Homo sapiens: one gene and its partners. The protein of the gene in region 1 interacts with the protein of each later gene in a pairwise test. Each region holds a gene or a part of one and is shown in the gene's direction. Other genes may lie near its edges.

Region 1 (4,899 bases):
GCTTAGATGATCCTCCTACCTCAGCCTTCCAAGTAGCAGGGACTAAAGGCGTCTGCCACCATGCCCAGCTAATTTATGTAATTTTTTGTAGAGACGGGGTTTCACCATGTTGCCCAGGCTGGTCTCGAACTCCTGGACTGAAGTGATCCTCCGGCCTTGGCCACCTGAAGTGCTGGGATTACAGACGTGAGCCACCATGCTTGGCCTGTCACCCCTTCTTAAAGACTATACACCTTTTTTTTTTTTTTTTTTTTTAGACGGAGTCTCCCTCTGTCGCCCAGGCTGGAGTGCAATGCGCCATCTCGGCTCACCGCAACCTCCGCCTCCCGGGTTCAAGCAATTCTCCTGTCTCAGCCTCCTGAGTAGCTGGGATTACAGGCATGTGCCAGCATGCATGGCTAATGTTTTTTTTTGTTTTTTTTTGTTTTTGTTTTTGTATTTTTAGTAGAGACGGGTTTTTACCGTATTGGCCAGGCTGGTCTCGAGCTCCTGACCTTGTGATCTGCCGCCTCGGCCTCCCAAAGTGCTGGGATTGCAGGCATGAGCCACTGCACCTGGGTTTTTTTTTTTTTTTTTTTGGGAGACAGAGTCTTGCTCTGTTGTCCAGGCTGGAGTATGGTGGCACGATCTCAACTCACCACAGCCTCTGCCTCCCGGGTTCAAGCGACTCTCGTGCCTCAGCCTCCTGAGTAGCTGGTATTACAGGCGCACCCCACCACGCCCAGCTAATATTTTGTATTGTTAGTAGAGACAGGGTTTTACCATGTTGGCCAGGCTGGTCTCGAACCCCTGACCTCAAGTGATCCAACTGCCTTGGCCTCCCAAAGTGCTGGGATTACAGGCGTGAGCCACCGTGCCCAGCCAAGACTATATACTCTTATTTCCCGTGAATACATTATTGACAGTTATTGAAAATATTGACTATAGCCCCAAAAGGCTTAACTGGTTAGAGATACAGGGCAGACAAAGGATAGATAAAAATGGTGGGGGCAAAGAGTAAATGCTATGGGATTCTAAAGGGTATCTGCATGAGAGAGATTCCTTTTTGTTGTTGTTTTGTTTTGTTTTTGTGACAGAGTCTCGGCTCTATCACCCAGCCTGGAGTGCAGTGGCTCCATCTCAGCTCACTGCAACCTCCGCCTCCCAGGTTCAACCAATACCTCAGCCTCTGGAATGGCTGGGATCCCGGGATTACAGGCATGCGCCACCACGCCCAGCTAATTTTTTTTTTTGAGACGGAGTCTCGCTTTGTCACCCAGGCTGGAGTGCAGTGGCGCGATCTCAGCTCACTGCAACCTCCGCCTCCCAGGTTCAACCAATACCTCAGCCTCTGGAATGGCTGGGATCCCGGGATTACAGGCATGCGCCACCATGCCCAGCTAATTTTCTTTTTTGAGACGGAGTCTCGCTCTGTCACCTAGGCTGGAGTGCAGTGGCGCTATCTCAGCTCACTGCAAGCTCCGCCTCTCAGGTTCATGCCATTCTCCTGCCTCAGCCTCCTGAGTAGCTGGGACTACAGGCGTCCACGACCACTCCCAGCTAATTTTTTGTATTTTTTTTTTAGTAGAGACGGGGTTTCACCGTGTTAGTCAGGATGGTCTCGATCTCCTGACCTCGTGATCTGCCTGCCTTGGCCTCCCAAAGTGCTGGGATTACAGGTGTGAACCACCCTGTCCGGCCACAATACCCAGCTAATTTTTGTAGTTTTAGTAGAGACAGGGTTTCATTGTATTGGCCAGGCTGGTCTTAAACTCGCGGCCTCAGATGATCTGCCTGCCTGGGCCTCCCAAAGTGCTTGGCTTAAATGGTGAGCCACCATGCCTGGCATGCCTGGACTTTTTTTTTTTTTTTTTCCCAGATGGAATCTCACTGTGTCACCCTGGCTGGAGTCCAGTAGCATGATCCAAGCTCACTGCAGCCACCACCTCCCAGGTCAAGCGGTTCTCCTGCCTCAGCCTACCAAGTAGCTGGGATTACAGGCGCGCCCCACCGCCCAGCCAATTTTTTATATTGTTAGTAGAGACAGGGTTTTATGATGTTGGCCAGGCTGGTCTCCCAAAGTGATAAGATTACAAGTGTGAGCCACAATGCCCAGCCAAGACTATATACTCTTATTTCCCAGTGAATACATTATTAACAGTTACCGAACATGTTGACCACAGCCCCAAAAGGCTTAATTGGTTGGAGATACAGGACAAAGGATAGATAAAAATGGGAGGGGCAAAGTGTAAATGCTATGGGATTCTGAGGGTATTTGAATGAGGGAGGTTCTTTTTTGTTTTTGTTTTGTTTTGAGTCAGAGTCTCTGTCACCCAGCCTGGAGTGCAGTGGCTTTATCTCGGCTCACTGCAGCCTCCGCCTCCTGGCTTCAAGTGATTCTCAGGCCTCAGCCTCCAGAATGGCTGGAATTACAGGCATGCGCCACCACACCCGGCTAATTTTTTTTGTATTTTTAGTAGAGACTGGATTTCACCATGTTGACCAGGCTGGTCTCACACTCCTGACCTCAGGTGATCTGGCTGTCTTGGCCTCCCAAAGTGCTGGGCTTACATGTGTGAGCCACCCCACCTGGAGTTTTTTTGTTTTGTTTTGTTTGAGATGGAATCTCACTCTCTCACCCAGGCTGGAGTGCGGTGACATGATCTTGGCTCACTGCAGCTTCTGCTTCCCAGGTCAGGCAGTTCTCCTGCTTGACCCAGTAGCTGGGATTACAGGCGCATGCCACCATACCCAGCTAATTTTCCTATTTTTAGTAGAGATGGGGTTTCTAGCCAGGCTGGTCTCGAACTTCAGACCTCAGGTGATCCGCCTGCCTTGGCTTCTCAAAGTGCTGGGATTACAGGCATGAGCCGTCGTGCCTGGCCTGTATGACTGTATGAGGGAGGTTCTTGAGCTAGGTGCCTTTTTTTTTTTTTTGAGATGGGGTCTCACTCTGTCGCCCAGGGGCACAATCATAGCTCATTGCAGCCTTGACCTCCTGGGTTCTAGCAGGCCTTCCACCTCAGCCTCCCGAGTAGCTGGGACTACAGGTGTGTGCCACCACACCTGGCTAATTTTTATTTTTTGTAGAGATGGGGTCTCATTGTGTTGCCCAGGTTGGTCTTGAACTCCTGGCTTCAAGCAGTCCTCCTGCCTCAGCCTCCCAAAGTGCTGGGATTATAGGCATGAGCCACCTCACCCAGCCTTCTTGAGCTGAGTTCTAGAGGAAAGTTAAGACTGACCTCAAATTTCAGGAGACAGTCCCAAAGGAATTCTGGTAATATTGCAATTTTTTTTTTCTGAGACAGTTTTGCTCTTGTTGCCCAGGCTGGAGTGCAGTGGCACAATCTCAGCTCATTGCAACCTCTGCCTCCCGGGTTCAAGCGATTCTCCTGCCTCAGTCTCCCGAGAAGCTGGGATTACAGGCATGCACCACCACGCTCAGCTAATTTTGTATTTTTAGTAGAGACCGGGTTTCTCCATGGTGGTCAGTCAGGCTGGTCTCGAACTCCGGGACTCAGGTGATCTGCCAGCCTTGGCCTCCCGAAGTGCTGGGATTGCAGGCGTGAGCCACCGCGCCTGGCCGAGATTCTTAAGTAAATGAACTTTTCTTTAGGCACATGAATTGGAACTATGGAACAAAGAGATTATTGATACAATTATTCAAGAAGCACATTTGCATATTTAGAACAGAAAGGTTGCACAGCTCTTACATACTCAAACATAGTTTTAGAGTTAGATCATGATCTTAACTTTCTTCATGGTTACCTTTTGGGGAGGAAAACCACCCTTTTTCATATTAAAGTAAAATGTGTACGTAATAAAGTGTGACTGGCATCCAAATCAAGAAACAGACCCTTCCCAGTACCATGGGAATCTGCCTGCCTTTCTAGTTACTTTCCTGACTTCTAATAACCGATTAGTTTTGAGTATGTTTGAGTAAAAGAATAGATGTGAGTATATATTATGTATTTTAAGTTTGAAAGTTTTCAAAAGATGCTTTTCAAAATCTTTCTTAAGAAAAATATAGTGTCTTAGAAAATGTGCCAAAATGTATTGAATTTCAGAGCTGAAACAGATCTAGGCCAAACTTCTCATCTATAAAATCAGGAAATTGAGGCCCAAGGAGGTTGATTGTTTCTCAGAGAAACAGAGCTGGTTAATGGTGAACCCAGGCTTTTTGCATACCAGTTTAGTCATAATAAGTAGTTGGTTTTTGGGAATATCCTTTTCATAAATGATAGTATAAAAGCTGACTGCTAATACAACTTTACAGAAGGGGATAACAATGCAGTATTATTTGTGTCTTTTTTTTTTTTTTTCCTCTTAGTATGAGAACTTGAACTTGCCAAGGAGGTAGAGATTTTTTAACTCCTGAAGCATAATTTAGTTAAGTTAGCTTAGTAATTAAGGGCGTGGGCTTTAGAATTAGATTTGCTTTGAGTCCTGGCTTTTCTTCTTAAAACCTGAAGTACTGGCTCTGTATCTCGATTTTTTTAATCTGTAAAAATGTGGGAAGATTAGGAGAGTCCTTGCGGTGCTTAGAACAACCTTGGGACATAATTAAACATTCAGTAAACGGATAGCTGTTAGATGTCAGAATTAGCTATGTTTTCATATTCTGTCGTGCTTATTATTCTTGGATTATAAAGGTATTGTTCAATGGTTTAGTGATTATTGGATGTAAATATGCCTCAAGAAAAGCTCAAGATGAGGGTTAAGGTACTTCTAATAGTGTTTCTTTGTCACCTGTGTGCCAATAATCCATGGGGCTAGTGGCCAAGTAGTCCACCCTTATCTGCAGTTTGATTTTCTGCAGTTTCAGTTACCCATTGTCAACCATCGTCCAAAAATAAGTGAGTATAGTACAATAAGGTATTTTGAGAGAGCACATTCACGTAACTTTCATTACAATATATT
Region 2 (4,353 bases), on another chromosome or scaffold:
CATTCTTACCTGCATTTATAGTGTGTTGGATTTTGGCCATTCTAATAGTTTTGACTTGCGGTTTCCGAATGACAGATTATATTGAGCATCTTCATGAGATTCTTTGCCATCTGTATATCTTTTTTGGCAAAGCATCTATTTCAGGTCTTTCAACATGATCCAGCAGTTCTGCTGCTTGATATTTACCCAAGGAGTTGAAAACTTTTTTTTTTTTTATATTCTGACATTCTTCTAATGGATTGTGATTTGAGTTAACTTTGTAGGGTGGGGTGGTGGTATCTTAGAAATGGAACTCTTTGGAAATAATACAGGGGGGTATTTTCTTCCCCCTAGGTAAAAGTGCTGTTTGTACGCAACCTTGCCAATACTGTAACAGAAGAGATTTTAGAAAAGGCATTTAGTCAGTTTGGGAAACTGGAACGAGTGAAGAAGTTAAAAGATTATGCGTTCATTCATTTTGATGAGCGAGATGGTGCTGTCAAGGTAAATATGGTGGAATTACAGGCATCTAAATCAGACTAACAAATTTAGTCATTTTAGAATCTCAAAATAGTTTTACAAATTGGAGGAGACTTTGGAAGTCCATGGAATCCATTCAAACTAAAACCTTTTGGTTTTAGTGATGTTGGCAGTTTTCTAAGTAAAAATGAAAAATAATTGAATATCTGCATCTTTAAATAAAATTATTTGACTGCCTGCATGGGGCTTTCTCTTGTCCTTCCCACATTAATGATAAATGATATTCCAACTTTAAATGAATCATAATTGTATGAAAGTCCTATTTTTATATTGACTTATCTAATTTTTTAAGGCTATGGAAGAAATGAATGGCAAAGACTTGGAGGGAGAAAATATTGAAATTGTTTTTGCCAAGCCACCAGATCAGAAAAGGAAAGAAAGAAAAGCTCAGAGGCAAGCAGCAAAAAATCAAATGTGAGTGAAATTTGTATACTTAAAAATTGTATAAATTTTAATATTTATACACTAATTGGAAAATAACAGGTGTTGATCAGACTTGTTAAATGCATAACATCTCTTTAAAGAAGACTTGAACGTTTGAGAGTCATAGGGAAACACCAGTGATCTAAGTGTTTATTGAACTCTTACTATGAACCATATTTGTGAAAATAATCAGAATTGTAAATAACTGGAATTTTGGTAAATTGGCAAGATGAAAAATCTGTCTAGCTTTTTTTTTGTTTTGTATTGGGTGACAGAGTCTCACTTTGTCACTCAGGCTGGAGTGCAGTGGCACTCTTTCGGCTCACTGGAACCTCCACCTCCCGGGTTCAAGAGATTCTCCTGCCTCAGTCTTCTGAGTAGCTGGGTTACAGGCGCCACCATGCCTGGTAATTTTTGTGTTTTTTTTTTTAGTAGGGGTGGGGTTTCGTCATGTTGGCCAGGTTGGTCTCAAACTCCTGACCTCAGGTGATCCGCCCACCTCTGCCTCCCAAAGTGCTGGGATTACAGCTGTGAGCCACCATGCCTGGCCTATCTCACATATTTTCTTTGTATTTTACAGAATGTTCTTCTGAAAATGTCTTAAATATTAGCTGTCCAAATATCTTAATACATTTTGTTAAAGGGTGGAGAGTTTTTTCTCTGAGAGATAGGAAATACTAAATCTCTATTCATGATAGACTGTTTCTTCACCAGTAGTGCTCATTGCCACCCCAAAAATTTCATGTTCGATGGATGGATTTTGAAAATGAAATGAGTATTAAAATTATAACACAGTAGTGCAATAAGAAAACAAGTAGGTGTGTAATGAGTTATACTAATTAGGGAGACCTTTTTAGAGAATCTGTAAATAGGTATCTGCTTAAGACTGAAGGAAACTTAGTTGGGTAAGAATTGAAGTTAGCTCCTAAAAAGTTAGTTACTGATTTCCTAGAAGAGGGGTAATTGTTCTTGAATGTGAGAGCAATAATCACTGTCAATACTATTCAAGGTTAATTTTCTGTTGATTGCCCTGTTTGGAATTTAAAGGAAGAGGATGCTTCTACATATTTCTGTTACTTCATAATCAGGGAATTGATCAAGTTCTAGTTTCTGCAGTTAATTGTCCAGTTGGACAAGTTGGCAAGCTCTGAACCTCAATTTCTTCAGTTCTAAAATGGGATCAGACAAAATTATGTAATAGCTCTGGATTATGTGATTATCCAAGTGACCCATGCTTGTTCTGGGACCAAAGAAAATATACTTTGTAGGTTTGATGATAGTGTAAATGAAGGAAGACTACAAAAAGAGTTAGTTTTAATGCTCTATATTTCAAACACCTGGATATACTAAACAGTGTAAAATAACTTCTTTTTATTTCTTTCAGAAGACGATATATGGTTAATTTATTAAAGTAGAATGTAAGTATAGGAGATTATATTAGATAATGTGATTAGAGCAGTTACATTTGGTACTTGATAGAGGGAGATACTAAATAGAAGGTGGAGGATGTCAGTATATCTGTTAATATTTGAAAAGGAGTACAAACTAAAAGGGATGATTGCATGTTACTTTCGTACTTTAACTTGCTACAGTCTTTTTTTTTTTTTTTTTAAGTTTTAACTAAGCACGTATTCCTACATAATTCTCACTGTATTCCTGTGAGTTAGGTACTCTATCCCTTAGTTTGAAATGAGGAAACTGAGGCTCAGAAGTCAACTTCCTTGGGGTCATTCACATAGTAAGTAGTGGAGTTGGATTTGAACTAAGGTAGTCTAGTCTCCCATAATTTTCCCTCTTAACCACTATACCAGGATTTCTCATCTCTGTCCTCCTGACATTTTGGGCTGGATAATTCTTGGTCTTGGGGGCTGCCCTGTGCGTTGTAGGACTTTTAGCAGCATCCTTGGCCTCTTCCTGCTAGATGCCAGTAGCACCCCCTTTCTCAGTTATGACCGTCTAAAATGTCCCCCTGGAAAGAGGTGGTGGCAAAATTATCCCTGGTGAGAACTATTTAGAAATAGAAAAGGATGATCTTTCCATCATTTCCTCAAAACAATAAACCAGCAGAGCACATAAAAGGTCTAAGGACCTAGTGAACCGGAATAACATTTTTACGTTAGTCAGTTGGAACAGGGGCCTTTAATAATTCAGGATAAAATAAGGCCGGGCGTGGTGGCTCATGCCTGTAATCCCACCACTTTGGGAGGCTGAGGTGGGCAGATCACTCTAGGCCGAGGTGGGTGGATCATTCGAGGTTAGGAGTTCGAGACCAGCCTGGCCAACATGGTGAAACCCCATCTCTACTAAAAATAAAAATTGGCTAGGTATGGTGGCACATGCCTATAGTCCCAGCTACTCGAGAGGCTGTGGCAGGAGAATCACTTGAACCCAGGAGGTGGAGGTTGCAGTGAGGTGAGATTGCGCCACTGCATTGCAGCCTGGGTGACAGAGCAAGACTGTGTCTCAAATAAATAAATAAATAAAATAACATAACAGGTACGGAATAAAAAACACGAGTAAATTATTCCTTCAAGAGGGATTAATTTCCATATTTCATGGGATTATTGGGCTCAAAATAATCACTAAGTTTTAAGGAATTGTATAAAATTGTACTGTAGGGAACATGAGTTGGAATATTGTAACTTCGTTTAGTCCTTTTACATAGTATGTAAGCATATGCTGATTTGTGTGGTTGCTTTCTAATCACTTTGACAACTAAAGTTATACCTGTTTAGTGGTTAAAGTTCAGCACTATAGTTACGGTGTAGTTTATTTTTGGGAAAGTAGCAGATCTTTTAAATTTTACTTGGATAGCATTATTGTAGAAACAGGAAAACTTTAAGGTCTTTATGCTAATTTACTGTAGTAAACTTTGAACTTCACACATTTTGGTTGTGTGCTTGTCCTACTTGCCATTTTGCTTTTGTAATAAATGTTCTTCAAGTATATTGGAATAGAATCTTAGCAGAAATGCAATTCAAAGTGACAAATTTTTTTTTGAGTCAGAGTCTCGCTCTGTCACCCAGGCTGGAGTGCAGTGATGTGACCTTGGCTTACTGCAGCCTCCGCCACCTGGGTTCAAGCGATTCACCTGCTTCACTCAGCCTCCCGCATAGCTGGGATTACAGGCATGACCGCTCCCAGCCCTAAAGTGGCAAATTTGACAGCTAAATCAATTGTAAAAATTCTGTAACAGGTTTATTGGGAGATTTTGAAGATCATGAAGAAATAAATAAGGTTCATAACTAGAGATTTGTGGTATTTTGGGATGCCTATATTGTCATCCTGATCCTCTGATCATTACTACTACTAAAACTTAATCTAGTACAAATAATTCTGTATTAAAGTTATGTGAATTATGCGAAGTAAACTCTGGATTTAAACTGTTACAAATGGCTAAATGCCTACTTG
Region 3 (5,148 bases), on another chromosome or scaffold:
TAGCACGGGGCCTGGTATACAGATGCATTCTTAGTCTTGTTCCTGCATCTCTGGCAGGCCAGGGGAGAAGAAAAACCAGACTCTAGGCCCGTGCAGTTCTCCTTTCTTTTACCTGAAGGAGATTGCAGAGTCTAGGACTGGCACCAGCTGCACAGCCTTGCTCCTTCAGCAGGGACTTCATGGATCTCCGCTGCTGATCCTCATGGTATCAGTGGCTGGTAGTTCATATTGTCTCCATTTTGCAGAGCAGGAAACTAAGGCCTAAGAGTTCAAGCAATTTGCCCAAGAACATGCAGTTCAATTGTCCTTAGCTAGGGCGGGGGAATTCTGGCCTTCTAACCCCTGATCCTGTGACCTTGGGAGTCTGGTGCCAAAAGGTCACTCTATCCAGCTCCTGCTTCCTCAGCAGCCCCTTCTAGGGTGACCCTGCCAGATGTCCATCAAACCTCTGCTTTTTGTTCTTCAGTGACAGCAAACTCACTTCCCATGGGGTAGCCCCTTGCACCACTGGGGAACACTCTTCCCTGCTGGAGGGGCTTTGCCCTGAACCTCAGTTCTGCCATTTGGAACCACACAGAGACCAAACCTCCAGCTTGGAAGAGCCCTAGACGGACTCCAGCAGCTTTGTTGTAGCTGCTAAGTCCCCTGCAGGGTGTACCCACCCCTGCCACGGTCCTCCCGGAGTGTGATTTTCAGGCCAGCCTCATCCTGGGCACCTTCCCTGGGCATGCTTCCACTGGTCTGGGTCCCTCTTTGGGGCACAATGCTCTGAAGAGAGACCCTGCCCCTCTCTGACTGTCCTGGGCAGACACGGCTTCTCTCCTGAGCCCTAGGCAAGCTCCCTGTGGCTCAGTCTAGATGAGACGAGTGTGCACTCCAAGAGGGTCTCCAGCCAGACTGCAGGGCACCTCTCCCAGAGGGCCTGTTCCCATTATAGCTGCAGCCCCTGCACTGGAGGAGGAAGGAGGAGAGGCAGCCCAAATTTAGGCCACTCTGGATATAATAATTAGTGACACATTCATCAAATCAGGGCAGGACGGTTACCGAGACCCAGGACATGTTAGGAACATTGTCCCCAGAGGACAAAGGAGGCCTTTGAGCCAGGCGGAGGGAGCTATATTTGTTTGGGTCCAGCCTAGCTTTAGACAGTGAAAGGTCAGAGGTGGGACCCTTCAGAAGTCCCACTGGGAAGGGGATCAGAGGAGGACTCAAAACCAACAGTCTTCAGAGACTCTGAGCCCCTCCCCAAGCCAAAAATAGAAGTACTAACATTTACCAAGCACTTACTGTAGGCCACAGCGAAGTGCTTACACAGATTATCTCAGTTAATCCATGCACCACCCCATAAGGTAAGCATTTTTCTCAGAGGAAACTAAAGCTCAGAGAAGTGAAATAATTTGCCCATATGTCATGGCATAGAGGTGGGCAGCATCGGGATCAGAAACTGGGACTATCTAAGCGAGCCCACAGTCTTAGCGCCCCTCCATCCTGAGTCTCAGGGTGAAGGGACCAGCAGGAAGTGGAGGAATTCTGGAGGCTGAGCCAGTGCAAAGCAGCAGCCTCGATGCCCAGAGGCCAGGTGTGGGACCTTCCCAAGTCAGCTGCTGGCCCCATGTATAAGCCTCATCATCTTTCAGCCTAGAGCAGTTAAGATAGAGTCAGACTTTGCCTCGATTCTGGCTCTATCCCTTACCAGCTGCGTGATCTTGGCCAAGTCACTTAACCTCTCTGAGCTTCAGTTTTCTCATCTTTATATACGTGACAAATACTTATTAAGTGCCTGCTGTGTGGCCCCCCAACCTAGGTGCTGGTGATACAGTGGTGAACAGGACAGATAAGGAACTCACATTCCCCAGGGCTGACAGATGATAAACAAGCACATAGACAGATGGGAGAAAACACTGCAAATTGTGATGAGATCTATGAAGGTAACAACAGGAGCAAAGACACAGGATGCCTGAGGGCTTCCCCTCTAGATAGAGTAAACTTGGATGGCCTCCTCCATGGGGTGACATGAGACTGAGGGCTGGACAAAGTAAAGGGGCCACTTTGAAGCTTGGGGGAGAAAAAATTAGAGGAGGAAAACAGGAAGTGCAAAGGCCCTGAGGTGGAAACAAGATGGACTGTTTCAAGGGGCATAGGAAGGCCACTGTGGAAGATGTAGGTAATAATACCTACCCGAAAGGGTCGTTGATACAAGAGATGATGCACGCAGAACACTTAACCCAGCAGCTGACATATAGTAGGGGCACAATCAATGCTGCTGCTGCTGCTGCTGCTTTATTGTGGTGGTGAATGTACCACCCCGCTCTCACCTCAGCCCAGCCCCAGATCTTGAAGTGGGGAGGGAGGAGTGGCTGATGGAGAAAGGGCCTTTCTGTTGTAGCGGATGGAGGTCTTGCCATAGGATAGTCCCCTCTCTGGGGACTGAGACTCAGGAGCCTGAGGCGGGGCTGGAGATGAAAGCAGGGGCCCCGGAGGGCCGGGCTGTTCTTCCTGTGAGCCCAGGCCCCTAGAGGTGAGGCTCTGAATCTGCTGACTGTCTCTTGGCGCTTTCCTCCCCTTCCTCCCTCTTCTCTGGTCCTGACAAGCCTGAGAATCTGTTGCTGGCCTCCAAGCTCAAGGGTGCCGCAGTGAAGCTGGCAGACTTTGGCCTGGCCATAGAGGTGGAGGGGGAGCAGCAGGCATGGTTTGGTAAGTGGGGTGGGCTGGCAGAAGTGTTGGGGGTCAGCACCCATTTGTGTTGACACATAAGCCTCTGGGAACCCCCTGCCTGAGTGGGTATGGCTGGAGATGCTGTTGGGCCAGCCGGGGCTGGTAGAGCAGAGGCCCTGTCCCACCCAGCCTCTGAGCCAGTGGGCAGCACCTATCTGTGTCCCCAGGGTTCAGGCATGGGACCCTACGGCCTTCCACAGGGCTCCCTGGGGCCCCCTCTCTCCTTTCCTGTCACTCCCCTCCGCCATCTCTCCTCCCCAAAGGGCTCCCTGTGGTTGAAGGCCTTAGGGAAGTTTCCACAGAGCTGCCCTAATAGTCTAGGTGCTTGAGATTATTATCCTGATTTTATAGATGAGGAAAAAACTGGCAGAAAACTTGCAGAAGGTCAAGAAAGTTTAAAAGGGATAGACCAGGACTTAACTCAGATGATCCAGCCTGCTTTGTGATTTTGGTATAACTGGGTCTCTTTAAGCTACCTGGGAGTACTTTTTAGTGGGCAATATTGAGCCATGGTTAAGAACCAGAGTTCTGGGTTCAAATCCCGACTCTGCTACTTATGAGGTATGTGACTTTGGCTAAGTCACTTCACCTCTCTGTGCCTTCGTTCCTCATCTGTAAAATGGGAATAATAATTGTGTGTCCCTCAGGAGTGGTGTCAGAATTAAATGTGACCAGGCATATGAAGTGCTCAGCCCAATGCTTAGCATACACACTCGGTAACTTGTAAGTGTTCTTAAAAGTGCTTGTTAGAATACCTCAGGTGTCCATTATTTGAACTGACCGGCTCAACAACCCTGGGAGGCACTTAAGATAGGAATCCCTAATCCTTCATTTGACAGATGAGGAAACAAGGACTAGAAGATAAAGAGACGTACCCAAGGGGCAAAGTCAGTTAGGACAGGCCTCCCGACATCCCATGACCAACTCCAACAAGGGGGTGCAGAGTGGGCTTAGCTCTCAGCCTGGGGCTGACATGGCAGGTGCATTTCATCTTGAAGCCACCAGCAATGGATCACTAGTGGCTCCTGGAAGAGTGGTGCTGAGAAGCTTATGATCCTGAGTCAGGACCCAGTAGGAAGGAGTTCTGTGGCTGATTACCACTGGCTCTGAAGTGGGAAGTGGTGACAGGTGTGCTAGGTAGTTGTCGATCTGATCTAGAGGCTTTGCTGGCTCATCAGGCTTATGTCTTGGGCCGACTGGGGTTGCACAATACAAGCCCAAGTGCACCTGAGGGGCAGGGGCTGTTTTCCTCAGCTCCAGAGCAATCCTCATCCCCTCTTCCAGCAGGATCTTGCTCCAGGTTACTTACGAGACAACCTCTGTGTATGTGTCTGCCTGTCTGTGTGTCTGGGAGCAGGGTTTGCAGGGACTCCTGGATATCTCTCCCCAGAAGTGCTGCGGAAGGACCCGTACGGGAAGCCTGTGGACCTGTGGGCTTGTGGTGAGTTCATCCTAAGGCCCTTTTGTGCCCCTGGCTGCACCCCGGCCTCTGGGGCCCCCTCTCTCCTTTCCCATCACTCCCCTCCCCCCATGTCTCCTCCCCACAGGGGGTTGAAGGTTCTCTGGTCCTCTTTCCAGGGGTCATCCTGTACATCCTGCTGGTTGGGTACCCCCCGTTCTGGGATGAGGACCAGCACCGCCTGTACCAGCAGATCAAAGCCGGCGCCTATGATGTGAGTGTCGCTCCTCTCTTCAGCTCCCATCATCCTCTGGTGCCCTTCCAGTGAAAGCCAGCGCCAAGCCACTCTCTAGTTCTGGCACAGGGGTGAACCCCAGGGGAGCATGAAGACTGACCAGGGCCAGGTGGTTACCATGCTGTGCCTAATGATTGGAGATTTATCTTGCCCCAGAAGGCAAGAAGCAGCACCAAAATGGAGTGAGGAGTAGGGGAGAGGCGCCTCCCAAGCCAGGGTTTCTCTGTTTCTCTCTCATATATACAAATAATAATAGCTAACAATTCTATAGCACTCTCTGAATGTTTTACACATATTATTACATTTAATCCTCACACCAATCTATGATATAGGTGCTGTTATTATTCCCATTTTACATATAGAGAAGCTGACATACAGAGAGGTCAAGTAACTGCCTAGATCACACAGCTAAGAAATGGTAGAGGTGGGATTTGAACCAGGCAGTCTGGCTCTACCATCCATGCTTCTAACTACCAAGCTATATTGCTTTTATGCAGATAGCTATTAAGCTCTGTGCCGTATGTTTTATATTGTATTTAATTCTCACAACATCTCTAGAGATAGCTCAAGAGGTCATGTGACTTACCCAGGTTACACAGCCCAGGAGGCAGAGCCAGGACTTGAATCCAGGCCTTTTGATTCTGAAGTCTGGGCTAAAGCCACTGACCGGCTGCTCTGCAAATAAGGCACAGTCTCAGAAAGATGGTTGGAGGGAGGCCTCCTTTCCCTCTGCCGTGTT
Region 4 (5,148 bases), on another chromosome or scaffold:
CTTCTGCTCTCCTTCTCTAAATCCAGTTCTTTCTGCCAGGTGTACTCAAAGGGTCTTTGCTACGGAAAAGTGATTTCTCCCATCCCCTTCTAACCATTTTTGTGTTCTTATCTCTGGTCAGCAATTATGTGCTTAATCTGTTCCAAAGAAAAGATTCATTCTTTTGAAAGGAGGGAAGTCTAGCCTGAGTTAGTGAAAAACTATGCATTAAAAATTTTGTAAATGCAGTTACCATTACTTTTAAGTCCTGAAATTTGATTTATGTACTGCTGAAAAAGGACAGAAACATAGTTTAAAGGATACAGGCATACCTCAGAGATATTGTGGGTTCAGTTCCATACCACTTCAATAAAGCGAGTATCTTGATAAAGCAAGTCACATTAATTGTTGGGTTTCCTAGTGGAATCATATTTTTGCTGGTGGAGGGTCTTGTGTTAGTATTGACTGATCGAGGTGGTGGTTGCTGAAGATTGGGGTGACTGTGGTAATTTCTTAAAATAAGACAACGACGAAGTTTACTTTCAACTCTTCCTTTTATGAAAGATATCTCTGAGCATGTGATGCTGTTTAATAGCATTTTACTCACCAGTAGAACTTCTTTGAAAATCTTTGAAAACCCACATTTGCAGTTACTTACAACATGGGAGTCTTGAACCCCTAAAAGTCATCCATAAGGGTTGGAATAGACTTCTTCTAAATGCCTGTTAATATTGATATTTTGGCTTCCTTTCACAAATCACAAATGTTCTTAATGGCATCTAGAATGGTGAATCCTTACCAGAAAGCCTTCAATTTACTTTGCCTAGATCTATCAGAAAAATCACTATTTATAGCAGCTTTATGAAATACATTTATTAAGACTTGAAAGTCCAAATTACTTCTTGATCCATGGGCTGCCGATTGGATGTTGTGTTAGCGGACGTGAAAACAACATGAATCTCATTTTACATCTCTATCAGAACTTTTGGGTGATCAAGTGCATTGTCAGTGAGCAGTAATATTTTGAAAGGAATCTTTTTTTCTGAGCAGTAGGTCTCAACTTAAAATTTTCAGTAAAGGGTTGGGCACGGTGGCTTACACCTGTAATCCTATCACTTTGGGAGGCCAAGGCAGGTGGATCACCTGAGGTCAGGAGTTTGAGACCAGCCTGGCCAACATGGTGAAGCCCAATCTCTACTAAAAATACAAAAAAATTAGCTGGGCATGGTGGTGGGCGCCTGTAATCCCAGCTACTCGGGAGGCTGAGGGAGGAGAATCGCTTGAACCCGAGAGGCAGAGGTTGCAGTGAGCCAAGATCATGCAGTTGCACTCCTGCCTGGGTGACAAGAGTGAAACTCCATCCCCCCAAAAAAAACTTCAGTAAAGGCTAGGCACGTTGGCTCACATCTGTAATCCCAGCACTCTGAGAGATCAAGCCAGGAGGACTGCTTAAGGCCAGGAATTCAAGACCAGTCTGGGCAATATAGCAGGACCCCATCTCTACAAAAGGTAATTTTTTTTAATTAAAAACATTCAGTATACCATGCTGTATACAGGTGTACTGTCATGTAGGCTTTGTTATTCCATTTCTAGAGCACAAGGAAAGTAGATTTAGCATAATTCTTAAGAGCCCTAGGATTTTTGAAATGGTAAGTGAGCACTGGTTTCAACTTAAAGTCACCAGCTGCCCTTGCTTCTAATAAGAAAGTCATCCTGTCCTTTGAAGCTTTAAAGCCAGGCATTGACTTCTCTCGAACTGTGAAAGCCCTGGATAGCACCTTCTTCAATAGAAGGCTGTTTGTTGACATTGAAAATGTGTTGTTTAGTGTAGCCACCTTCATCAGTAATCTTGGCAAGATCTTCTGGATAACTTGCTGCAACTTCTGCATCAGCACTTGCTGCTTCTCCTTGCACATTTTTGTTACAGAGATGGCTTCTTTTCTTAAAACAACCTACCTAACTTTAAACTTTTCTTCTGCAGCTTCCTTACCTCTCTCAGCTTTCATAGAACTGAAGGAGTTAACAGCCTTGCTCTGGATTGGGCTTTGGCTTAAGGGAATCATGTGATCTTATATCCAGATCACTAAAATTTTCTCCATCTCAGCAATAAAGCTGTTTCACTTTCTTATCATTCATGTGTTCACTGGAGTAGCACTTTTAATTTTCTTCAATAACTTTTCCTTAGCATTCACAGCCTGGCTTGGTGTTTGGCACAAGAGGCCTAGCTTTCAGCCCATCTTGGCTTTCAATGTGCCTTTCTCACTAAGCTTAAACATTTTTAGGTTTTGATTTAAAGTGAGAGACATGTGATTCTTCTTTCACATGAACACTTAGAGGCCATTGCAGGATTATTAATTGATATAATTTTAATATCGTTGTGTCTCGGAATAGGGAGGCCAGAGGAGATGGAGAAAGATGAGGGAATAGCTGGTAGTGGATCAGTTAGAACACATAAAATATATTTATCGATTAAGTTGTTCGTCTTATATGGATGCAGTTCACAGTGCCCCCATAACGATTACAATAGTAACATCAAAGATCACTGATCACAGATCATACTAGATATAATAATGAAAAAGTGTGAAATATTGTGAGAATTACCAAAATGTGACACAGAGACATGAAGTGAACACATGCTGTTGGAAAACATGGTGCCAGTAGACTTGCTCAACACAGGTTGCCACAAACCATCTATCTGAAAAACATACAATGTCAACAAAACACAATAAAGCGAGGTGCAATAAAATGAGGTATGCCTGAAATTGTTTAAATAATATATTGCTTTTGATATGTATATATTAATAATACCTCTAAAGTGTTTGAAATATTTTGTTCTCTTACGTAAATGAATGGTGTTAGCAAAACTAGGGAACATATTTTTTATCTTAGAGATTAGATTACCAGCATTTGAAGCAGTGAGGCTTCATTGTACATTTATTTTTATGTTACGTATTGCTTGGTATTTGTTCCTATGGCCTTTCATGTATGTGTGTTCTGCCTTCCATATTAAACTGGGAAATCCTTGTGGGACAGAGATTTGTCTTCTTTGTCTTCTGGACCCCAAGTATTCACAAATCAGTATTAGCACACAGTTATTAATGTGTTTATTCTTCCTTTTTTTTTTTTCTGAGAGAGTCTTGCTCTGTCGCCCAGGCTGGAGTGCAGTGCATGATCTCGGCTCACTGCAACCTTTGCCTCCTGTGTTCAAGCGATTCTCCTGCCTCAGCCTCCTGAGTAGCTGGGGTTACAGGCGCACACCACCACACCTGGCTAATTTTTGTATTTTTAGTAAAGACAGGGTTTCACCATGTTGGCTAGGCTGGTCTTGAACTCCTGACCTCAAGTGATCCACCCGTCTTGGCCTCCCAAAGCGCTCAGATTACAGGCGTGAGCTACTGTGCCCAGCCAGTTATTGATGTTTATTAACTAATGCAAGACAGGGGATACCAAACCGTAACAGGAATGTGTGATTTGTTCCTATGCCACCAGTCTGGAACTCTCTGTACTTATCCTCAAGGAGAGTGAGATATGTGGTTGGTACTTGGGGGACAGAGTAAAGAATTGATACAATCCCTGTCCCTTATAGGGAGCTCCCAGCATCCTTGAGGAGCAAAGACAAGCATAAAAGAAATCATTGGGAAGTGATATAAATGACCAAGCTTCATGATGACCAGAAGTTGAAAGTAGGGATTAGGTTGGGAGAAGTGCATTCAGGTCCCGCTGGAGCTCTTCTTGCACTGTGTGACCCTCAGTTTATCCTATCCCTATTTTATAGCTGTGGAACTTTGGGGAGGAGGGGGAACCTTTTGCCTTCAGGACCACTGAATACCAGGACCAATATTGCTTTCTTTTCTCCTTCCTTCTAGGATGTCAAAAGTACCCTGGAAAAGTAAGTGATTGTTGTATCTCTCTGAGTGAGTTAGGTCTTGGCTTAGAGAGGAGGGGTACAGTCAGGAGTTTGGGTTGGGGGTGAGGTTGGGAAAGTCATGTAGTGTGTCTGGGCAGGGTATGGGAGAATGTTCATTGTGCCCATGAAGCCAGTTAGAGAACAAATTATTGGGAATAATAATCCCTTTTCCCCTTTGAACATCAGGACTTCTTGAGAAGGAGAATGATAAGGTAGAATCAGATTCTACTTGTGCCAGTGGGTGGAATTGTGTCCAAACAAGATGGCAGGAGGAAGGGGTTGGGAGAGCAGGGAGGGCAATCATCCATTTGCATGAAATACAGGAATATTCCTAGAAAGTTCGGAGGCTCACTCTCAACGATCTGTCCACGGGATCATAAGGCTCTCCTTGGATTAGTAAAAGAAATCAACAGGTGAGCTTTTCAGGGAGGAGGAAGAAAGTGGGAAGATGGAGAATTTTAATTTCTCCCTAAAAATGTTAACATCTGAATAGTCACTTGGCTGGAGCTTCTCCCTAACCCTGCCCTTTCTTCCCCTATCTCCCTATCCCTCCTAGATGTGAAAAGGTGAAGACCATGGAGGTGACTTCAGTATCCATAGAGCTGGAAAAGAACTTCAGCAATTTTCCCCGACAGTACTTTGCCCTAAGGAAAATCCTTAAACAGCTAATTGGTGAGTTGTTCCCAAAAGGAAACTAGAAGAAACCACTAGAGAGAAGAAAGTTTTTAGGTCCTACCTTATATGGGTTTCAGTTATCCTATGTCTCACTTTTCTTACTCCCACACACACCTACCCCTTTATCTGGCTTTTAGTCTCACCCTGAGTCACAGAACTTGGAGTGAGAGGAAGCCTTAAGCGTTATCTACTCTTAGGTCCATTCTTTTCTAAATAGAGACCCAGAAAGGTTAAATAATTTGCCAAAGTCATCGGGTAGAGTGGTTATATAATTTACCATGTAAACTTGCATAACCTTCAAAGGCCGGGTGCGGTGGCTCACATCTGTAATCCTAGCACTTTGGGAGGCCAAGGCTGGTGGATCACTTGAGGTCAGGAGTTCGACATCAGCCTGGCCAACACGGTGAAACCCCATCTCTACTAAAAATATAAAAATTAGCCAGATGTGGTGTTGGGCGCCTGTAATCCCAGCTCCTCTGGAGGCTGAGGCAGGAGAACTGCTTGAACCTGGGAAGCGGAGGTTGCAGTGAGCTGAGATCACACCACTGCACTCCAGCCTGAGGGACAGAGTGAGATTCCATCTCAAA

The links.
Region 2: the proteins of UBE2K (region 1) and SYNCRIP interact in binary tests that used the Homo sapiens proteins (3 or more experiments, as listed by UniProt).
Region 3: the proteins of UBE2K (region 1) and CAMK2A interact in binary tests that used the Homo sapiens proteins (3 or more experiments, as listed by UniProt).
Region 4: the proteins of UBE2K (region 1) and TRIM39 interact in binary tests that used the Homo sapiens proteins (3 or more experiments, as listed by UniProt).

The regions. Positions count from the first base shown.
Region 1 is NC_000004.12:39,704,636-39,709,534, forward strand, and holds part of UBE2K (ubiquitin-conjugating enzyme E2 K), read left to right. Parts: intron 1-4,899. UniProt on the Homo sapiens protein: Accepts ubiquitin from the E1 complex and catalyzes its covalent attachment to other proteins. In vitro, in the presence or in the absence of BRCA1-BARD1 E3 ubiquitin-protein ligase complex, catalyzes the synthesis of 'Lys-48'-linked polyubiquitin chains.
Region 2 is NC_000006.12:85,615,398-85,619,750, reverse strand, and holds part of SYNCRIP (heterogeneous nuclear ribonucleoprotein Q), read left to right. Parts: intron 1-333; coding exon 334-483; intron 484-811; coding exon 812-933; intron 934-4,353. UniProt on the Homo sapiens protein: Heterogenous nuclear ribonucleoprotein (hnRNP) implicated in mRNA processing mechanisms. Component of the CRD-mediated complex that promotes MYC mRNA stability.
Region 3 is NC_000005.10:150,250,990-150,256,137, reverse strand, and holds part of CAMK2A (calcium/calmodulin-dependent protein kinase type II subunit alpha), read left to right. Parts: intron 1-2,591; coding exon 2,592-2,694; intron 2,695-4,072; coding exon 4,073-4,156; intron 4,157-4,293; coding exon 4,294-4,388; intron 4,389-5,148. UniProt on the Homo sapiens protein: Calcium/calmodulin-dependent protein kinase that functions autonomously after Ca(2+)/calmodulin-binding and autophosphorylation, and is involved in various processes, such as synaptic plasticity, neurotransmitter release and long-term potentiation.
Region 4 is NC_000006.12:30,336,063-30,341,210, forward strand, and holds part of TRIM39 (E3 ubiquitin-protein ligase TRIM39), read left to right. Parts: intron 1-3,845; coding exon 3,846-3,868; intron 3,869-4,209; coding exon of another isoform or gene 4,210-4,299; intron 4,300-4,442; coding exon 4,443-4,558; intron 4,559-5,148. Other genes in the region: TRIM39-RPP21 protein, read left to right, coding at 3,846-3,868, 4,443-4,558.